2 linked regions of the Homo sapiens genome follow. The protein of the gene in region 1 purifies or fractionates together with the protein of each later gene. This does not show direct contact. Each region holds a gene or a part of one and is shown on either strand. Other genes may lie near its edges.

Region 1 (3,809 bases):
GACCATGTCCCTAGACACTCAGGGTGGACTATGTCCCCTAGAGACCCAGGGTGGACCATGTCGCCTAGACACCCAGGGCAGGACCATGTCCCCTAGACACCCAGGGCAGGACCATGTCCCTAGATGCCCAGGGCAGGACCGTGTCCCCTAGACGCCCAGGGCAGGACCGTGTCCCCTAGACGCCCAGGGCAGGACCATGTCCCCTAGACGCCCAGGGCAGGATCATGTCCCTAGACACCCAGGGTGGACCATGTCCCCTAGACACCCAGGGTGGACCATGTCCCCTAGACACCCAGGGCCAGGGTCATGTCCCTAGACACCCAGGGTGAAGCACGTCCACTAGACACCCAGGGTGGACCATGTCCCCTAGACACCCAGGGCAGGACCATGTCCCCTAGACACCCAGGGCCAGGGTCATGTCCCTAGACACCCAGGGTGAAGCATGTCCCCTAGACACCCAGGGTGGACCATGTCCCCTAGACACCCAGGGTGGACCATGTCCCCTAGACACCCAGGGCCAGGGTCATGTCCCTAGACAGCCAGGAGCAGGGTTGTCTCCCCTCAGACCTGGGCAGAACTATGTCCCCTAGACACCCAGGAGAAGGGCTGTGTCCTCTCAGACCTGGGGCTGGGCCATGTCCCTTAGATATCCAGGATGAGGCCATGTCCTCTCAGAACTGGGGCAGGACTGTGTCCTCTAGACCCTGGGGCAGTGTCCTATCCCCTCAGTCCCCCAGGGCAGGGTCATGTCCACCTGGAAAGTGGGAGTGTCTGGCTGTGCTCTATTCAGGCTTGCTACAGCCGCACTTCTGCCTTTTGGCCTCCAGGTGTCGCCACAGCACTGCAGACCTTTTATTTATCCAGTGCCTGTCCTGTGGACACTCTGGGAGAGTCTTCTGTTCAGAGTGACTCCTAGTAGGGTAGGCGACCAAAGGAGGCCACCTGGCAGGGGTCCAGGCCAGCTGGCAGAACTATGTGGCCCAGACTCCTAGCTCCACACCCCACCCTCACTGGGGAGATGTGAGAGCAAAGCCAGTTAGCCAGCACCCCCCAGGCCTCGCCTTGTCTCTGGCCTTGGTCCTGAGACCCCATCTGCCTGGGTGGAGCCCAGGACTGGAGTAGGAGGGTGTGTTCATAGGGGCCTTGAACCTGGCCAGGACAAGCCATCCACATTTGCTCCTCCAGGCCTTGGTTTCCCCAAGCATCAACCACCCTCCCACTTCAAGTACCTGGCTCTGCTCAGTTCTCTTGCTCTAAATCTGGAACTTTCCAAGGTCTAGGGTGTTGGTAGTGCATGCTTAAGAGAGTTGATTCTAGGAGATTCTGATATGCTTGGGCTGAGTGTTTGCTGAGACCTGGGCCCTTCTCAGCTGGTTCCAGCCAGCTGGCCTCTGCCTAACTCACTCCCCTCTCTCCTGACCCACAGCCCAGCACGGCCCCACCCAAGCCCAAGCCGCCTCCGCTGACCAAGGAGACAGTGGTGTTCTGGGACATGCGCCTGTGGCACGTGGTGGGCATCTTTTCGCTCTTCGTGTTGTCCATCAGTGAGTAGCTGTTCCCTTCCCTCTCCACCACACTGCAGTGGGAACACAGCACCCCCTGCCCCCCAGAGGGCTCAGAGCAGCAATTCCGGGCAGTGCAAGTAGGCCAGGCACCCGCAGGAGACCCGCGGTGGTTTCTGGCACCTCCTGATCCACACAAACTCCCCGTGGAGGGCTGACAGGCCGGTGGTGACCTGAAGTATTCTGCAGGACCCAGGGAGGTAGCCACATGGCAATTATGGTAATTACAGGGAACTCCACTGAACCAAGGACTGGGACGAGGACGTGTCATTTTTCCCTATGGCTGGCCTCCTGATGCTTTTCCTGCAGTTTGGCCAGCTTAAAGGCCCACACCCAGGGGCCCCAGCAAGGCCATCCTCCACTAGAGGCTCCCCAGACACCCAGCAGATGTGGCTCCCAGGCTTCAATCCCTGCCTTGTCAAATACCATTTTCCGGGAGTGACTCACACCCGCCTCAATTAAAAGCAGGAAACCCATTCCTCTCCTGGGCTCTGGGAGCTTCTTGATGCAAAGTCGCAGCAGAAATGGGCTTGGCCGGCTCCCCTTAGCCCTCCCCTCAGAATGGAGGTCTGGAGTTGGGGAAGGGGACAGAAAGGCACAGGAGACAGAGGCCAAGTGGGGAGGCTGCCATGGCACAAAGCAGTCTGACAGAGGTTCCCACGAGGCAAAAGCAGAGTGGGGGGGAATGTAGGAGGTAAAGGGAGAAGCAGCCCACTCCCCTGCAAAGGCATCACAGAGGAGGGTCCTCTGAGGAGGAGGGTCCTCTGAGCTGCAGACCGGTGGGAGGGTAGGTGGGGTTTTGCAGGAGGGAAGGCTGGAAAGGCATTCCGGGAGAGGGGATGTGAGCAGAGGCTGGAGGAAATGCAGCCTCACGCAGGGTCTCAGATGAACCCAACTGGACATTTGCTGAGTGCACCCTGGGTGGGGAGGCAAAAGCTGCACTTCGTCCCAGCCGGAGCTGTCCCGGGATGAGGTGCCCCAGAGAGCTGGGTGGCCCACAGAGAGCCCACCCAGATGTGAGGGGCTCCAAGGAAGACGTGACATCTGATTTGCACGTGCTTCTCCTGGCACCAGAAGTGCTGTCCCAAGAGAAAATATCTGCCCTGCAGAAAATCCCCGCCCCCCATCTGAGCAAGAGCCTGTGCTTTGTTCCCAGCCGAGGCTGAGAACCAGTCAGGCATCTTTGTGGAGGCCCCACAGACAGATAGGTGTGCCTGCAGCCTCAGCCAGGTGTCCAGAGAGGGAAACAGCCCGCTGCAGGGCTCGGGGGTCATCTGCCCTACAGGAGCCACAGGCACAGCCTAGGATGCAGGTCTACGGAGCAGCAGGGAGAGCACTGTGGGCCTCAAGACACAACAAAGGTGCCTGGGGCCACATGAGAAAATTGCAGTGTCAGACCCCAAGCGGCACTTGGACATCAACCACACAGACCATCTCTAACCCCATTTCCTAGAAAGGGTAAAGGATAGTCCCAAGACACCTGAGCAGCAGGCAGCACTTGTTACCTTCCATTGCCGGATCTAGGCAGTGGGGGCAACACAGCTCCCTCTCCTGGGGGGAAACATTTTTCCTGCTTCCCAGTCTGCCTGGGCTGTTATTGGAGCATCACCCCCAAAGCCCTGCAGGAAAAGGGGCTGGGGCTAGATGGGGTGCCCCTGGAGGTCTCCTCCAGCCCCAGGGACTTATATCCCAAGCCCCTGCCTGGGCCCTGGAACTTGACCCAAAGCTCTTTGCATCTCCCCTTCTTTGAAGAGAAGCAAACAGGCCAGGCTGTGCGGGGCAGGCCTGAAGTGAGGGGTGGTGTTTGAGCCCGGCTCTGGCTGCCGTCAGTGGCCCACTGAGCTCCTTAGGAAGCCCCAGCCTCCCGGGGCCTGGGACCAGCCTGCATGGAGCCTGAGTGGGCATAGTCCCAAGGAGGTTCCTGGTGGGGTGGCTAGAAGAGGTGGCCTAAGCCGGGAGGGTTAGGATTGGGTACCAACTTCGAGTCTCAGGCATGAACACAGGTTCTGGAGAAATCCAGGACCCAGCTTCTTGGATAAGGCCTGCTGTCTGCTCAGGTCCACCCCTGGACAGTCGGATCTATAGCTGGGGCCCTTGTGCAGCACCCTCCTCCAAGTGTATGCCTGGATGCTATTGGCTCCCCAATTCATTCACTCTAGTCCAGTCCTGTTCCCAACAGCAAAGGCTTTGAGATCATCCCATTCATTCATTCATTGATTTTTTTCTTTTATTCTGAGCCTGGGTGAG
Region 2 (3,812 bases), on another chromosome or scaffold:
GAAGGAAAGCTTGACTGCTGGAAGTTGAGTGAAGGGGAGCTTGAAAGTTCCAATGAGGAGCTGGTTGAGGGGTTGGATGGTGCTAGAAAGAGTTTTTACCTGTTTGGCATGGGAGTTTTGAGCATGTTTATGAATGGAGGAGTCAGGAGAGAAGGAGAGGGGGAAGAGACTACAAAACTGAGAGGAGAAGATCTTGAGGATTGGGGAGTGCCTCGGATTGGCCTGAAGAGGAGGACTGGACGTCAGTCTCTGAATGGAGGGAAGGAGGAAAGGAGAGGAGGATATAGAGAGGCACTAGGGACATAGGAGAGTGAAGGATGGAGGATTCAGGGGCCTGATGATGGCTCAGATTAGTCAGTGATGGGAGAGCAGAGGACACTTACTAGAAACAGACATCAGAACTGAAGGCAGCTGTATTTGGGGACCTCAAATTTGTGGAGTGAAGATCTGCATTATGCAAACTCTCCCATATCCTCAATCTCAACTCTTAATGTTTCCTATAACTTAGGATCTTAATTAAAATCTGACAAACACTATGTGCCAGGCATGATTCTAAGTGCTTCACAAGTATTAACTTATTTAATTGTGTTTTCTTTGTTTTTGTTTTTTTGGTGGCTTTTTTTTTTTTTTTTTTTTTTTTTGAGACGGAGTCCTGCTCTGTCACCCAGGTGTGAGTGCAGTAGCACAATCTTGGCTCACTGCAACCTCCACCTCCCGGGTTCAAGCGATTCTCTTGCCTCAGCCTCCCGAGCAGCTGGGATTATAGGCTCACACCATCACGCCTGGCTAATTTTTGTATTTTTAGTAGAGATGGGGTTTTGTCATGTTGGCCAGGCTGGTCTCAAACTCCTGACCTCAGGTGATCTGCCCGTCTCGGCCTCCCAAAGTGCTGGGATTACAGGCATGAGCCACCATGCCCAGTGTAACTTATTTAATTGTGACTTACTTTTCCTTGCAGTCCTCTCAAGTAGAGTGGTTTCTGTCTCATACTCCACACTCCTTAGGGCCAGAAGGTGGGCTTGAGCCCTCCCTCTTCCCAACTGGAACATTTCTGAACTATTCAACTCTAGCTCCTTTGAAGCTCATGCCTTCTATCTCTATCACTCCTCCTTATTGTTGTCTCTGCTAACCTAATGGTTGCCCCCACTTCCAATTGTGGACATCTTTCTCTTGGCTCACTCTCTTCTTCCATTACCCCCCGCACCACTCTGCCATCATTCTCAGTGGCACTAACATCCATCCCCCATTGTGATTTCTTAATTCCTTGACCTTCTCACCCCCAGTGATCTTTTCCCCCATTTCCCATGCTCCCACTAACACCCACTTCTCATCAACTATCACTGCATTTCAACCATTCTACTCTATTCTTCAGCAGCTTTCTTCCAAGCTCACTGAATCTAGTGTTTCCCCATGCAAAACACCTTCTAATTCAGCAATATCCCCTTCCTATTTGTCAAGTGTACCTGGCTCACGATAGCTTCCTAACTGGTCTCTGTTTCCACTCTTGCTCCTTTATAATCCATTCTCTCCATAACAGCTAGGGTGAACTTTTTACATTACATTATTTCCCTGTATATATATATTTTTAAAAACTCCAATGGTTTCCCATTGCACTTAAAATAAAATCCAAACACTTTCTGAAAACCTACAAGCTCCCCCTTAAACTGCCCTTATTCTCTCCAATTTCACCTCATCCCACTTTACTCCTCACTTGGCCACACTGGTTTCTTTTCTGGTATCTGAACATGTCCTGTCTACTTCTTCCTCAAGGCCTTTGCACAGATTTTTCTATTGCCTGGAACAATCTGTCTCCTTCTTATCCTCAGAACTCAGGTCAAATGTCACCTCCTCAGGGAAGCCTTCCTTGATGACTATATAGAATAGTTCTTGCCCCAAACACCCCTACTTCTCTCTGTTTATATCCTGTAAAACATTAATACAAGCTGCAGCTCTCGTTTTCTTGATTGCTTACTGTCAGTCACTGCCCACTAGAACATCCTCTGAGAGCAGGGACCAAGGGATACATGAATGAATACTAGTTGACAGTGAAGGCTCTGCAGTGAAAACTGGATTCAGATCTCAGCTATTTACTTACTGTGTAGCCTTGGAAATATTTCTTTTTTTTTATTTGTTTATTTAATTTAAGATAGAGCCTCTCTCTGTCACCCAGGCTAGAGTGCAGTGATGTGATCATGGCTCACTGCAGCCTCCACCTCCCAGGCTCAAATGATCCTCCCACCTCAGCCTCCCGATTAGCTAGAACTACAGGTGCATGCCACCACACCCAGCTAATTTTTAAATTCTTTTTTAGAGACTGCATCTCACTATGTTGTTTCCCAAGCTACTCTGGAACTCCTAGGCTCAAGTGATCCTCCCACCTTGGCCTCCCAAAGTGCTGGGATTACAGGCATGAGCAACTGCACCTGGCCAGAGATATTTCTTAATTATTTACTGACTTTGAACCTTAGTTTCCTCCTCTCTAATATGGGGATACCTGGGTGTGGTAGCCTGCACCTGTAATCCCAGCTACTCAGGAGGCTGAGGCAGGAGGATCACTTGAGCCCAGGAGTTCAAGTCCAGTTTGGGCAATATAGCAAGACACTCATCTCTAAAAAAAAAATAAAATTTAAAAAATTGAAACAAGCTGGGCACGGTGACTCACGCCTGGAATCCCAGAACTTTGGGAGGCTGAGGCGGGCAGATCACAAGGTCAGGAGTTCGAGACCAGCCTGGCCAACATGGTGAAACCCCATCTCTACTAAAAATGCAAAAATTAACCGGATGTGGTGGCGTGCGCCTGTAGTCCCAGCTACTTGGGAGGCTGAGGCAGGAGAATCACTTGAACCCAGGAGGCAGAGATTGCAGTGAGCCAAGATGGCGCCACTGCACTCCAGCCTGGGTGACAGAGAGAGACTCTGTCTCAAAAAAACAAAAACAAAAACAAAAAACAAACCAAAAAAAATTAAAATGAAAAGTTACATTAAAAAATTAAAATAAAAAAATAAAATGAAGTTAATAAAGTATCTGTTGCAGGGATTAAGGAAATCAGTATGTATAAATCACTTAGCCAGTCCCTGGCAAACAGTAAGCAATCAATACATGGTAGCTACTGTTATTACAATTTCTCAGCCAGATTTTCTCCAGGAGTGCTCAGTGATCTGGGCACAGGAGAAAGTGCAGAGACATCCAATTTCAGCTCTGATCCAACATTGAGCTTCTATTGCATGGGTTTTGCAAAGGATAAAGATGTGAAGGAACTGCAGGGGAGCCAGTCGGTCAGCCACAGGGTCCAGGATGGGCAGGAAAGACAGGGAGGCCAGGACGCAGCTGGTGACTGGGAAAAGAGGGAGCAGTCAAAGGGGCTAGATATCTATATTGTATCGAAAGTGGTGTAATGGGAGTGGGGTAACGGGAGCCAGGAGTGGAACGTTGGCGTTTATGACTACAGATAAGATTCTGGATTATAAGATTCAGGGCATGGTTGGGAGGGAGTGTTACTGAGGTGGAATGGGGGACAACCCTGAAGAAACAGTTAAGAACCAACAGGCACAAGAGGGTGGTTGTCCCCAGGCTGACAGAAGAACTTGAATGGACAGGAAAACTGAGGCCATTTCCAGTTGATAAAGGAGAGTGGGCAGTGGAGCTGGAATCTCAAAGAGCAGGGCTGGCAGGGAAGCAGTATCTCTGGTGCAGAGCCAGGTTTCCGTTGGGGCAGAAGGCAGAGGAAAAGTGCGGATAGAGGCAGTGGTGGTGAGAAGACCTAGGGACCAGGCCACCCAAGACAGAACAATGAGAGATAAGGGCCCAAGAGA

Evidence for each region.
Region 2: the proteins of TMIE (region 1) and TRIM3 purify together in Homo sapiens (affinity purification with mass spectrometry; one large-scale study listed by BioGRID and IntAct). This does not show direct contact.

The regions. Positions count from the first base shown.
Region 1 is NC_000003.12:46,704,364-46,708,172, forward strand, and holds part of TMIE (transmembrane inner ear expressed protein isoform 1 precursor), read left to right. Parts: intron 1-1,426; coding exon 1,427-1,544; intron 1,545-3,809. UniProt on the Homo sapiens protein: Auxiliary subunit of the mechanotransducer (MET) non-specific cation channel complex located at the tips of stereocilia of cochlear hair cells and that mediates sensory transduction in the auditory system.
Region 2 is NC_000011.10:6,460,283-6,464,094, forward strand, and holds part of TRIM3 (tripartite motif-containing protein 3), read right to left. Parts: intron 1-3,812.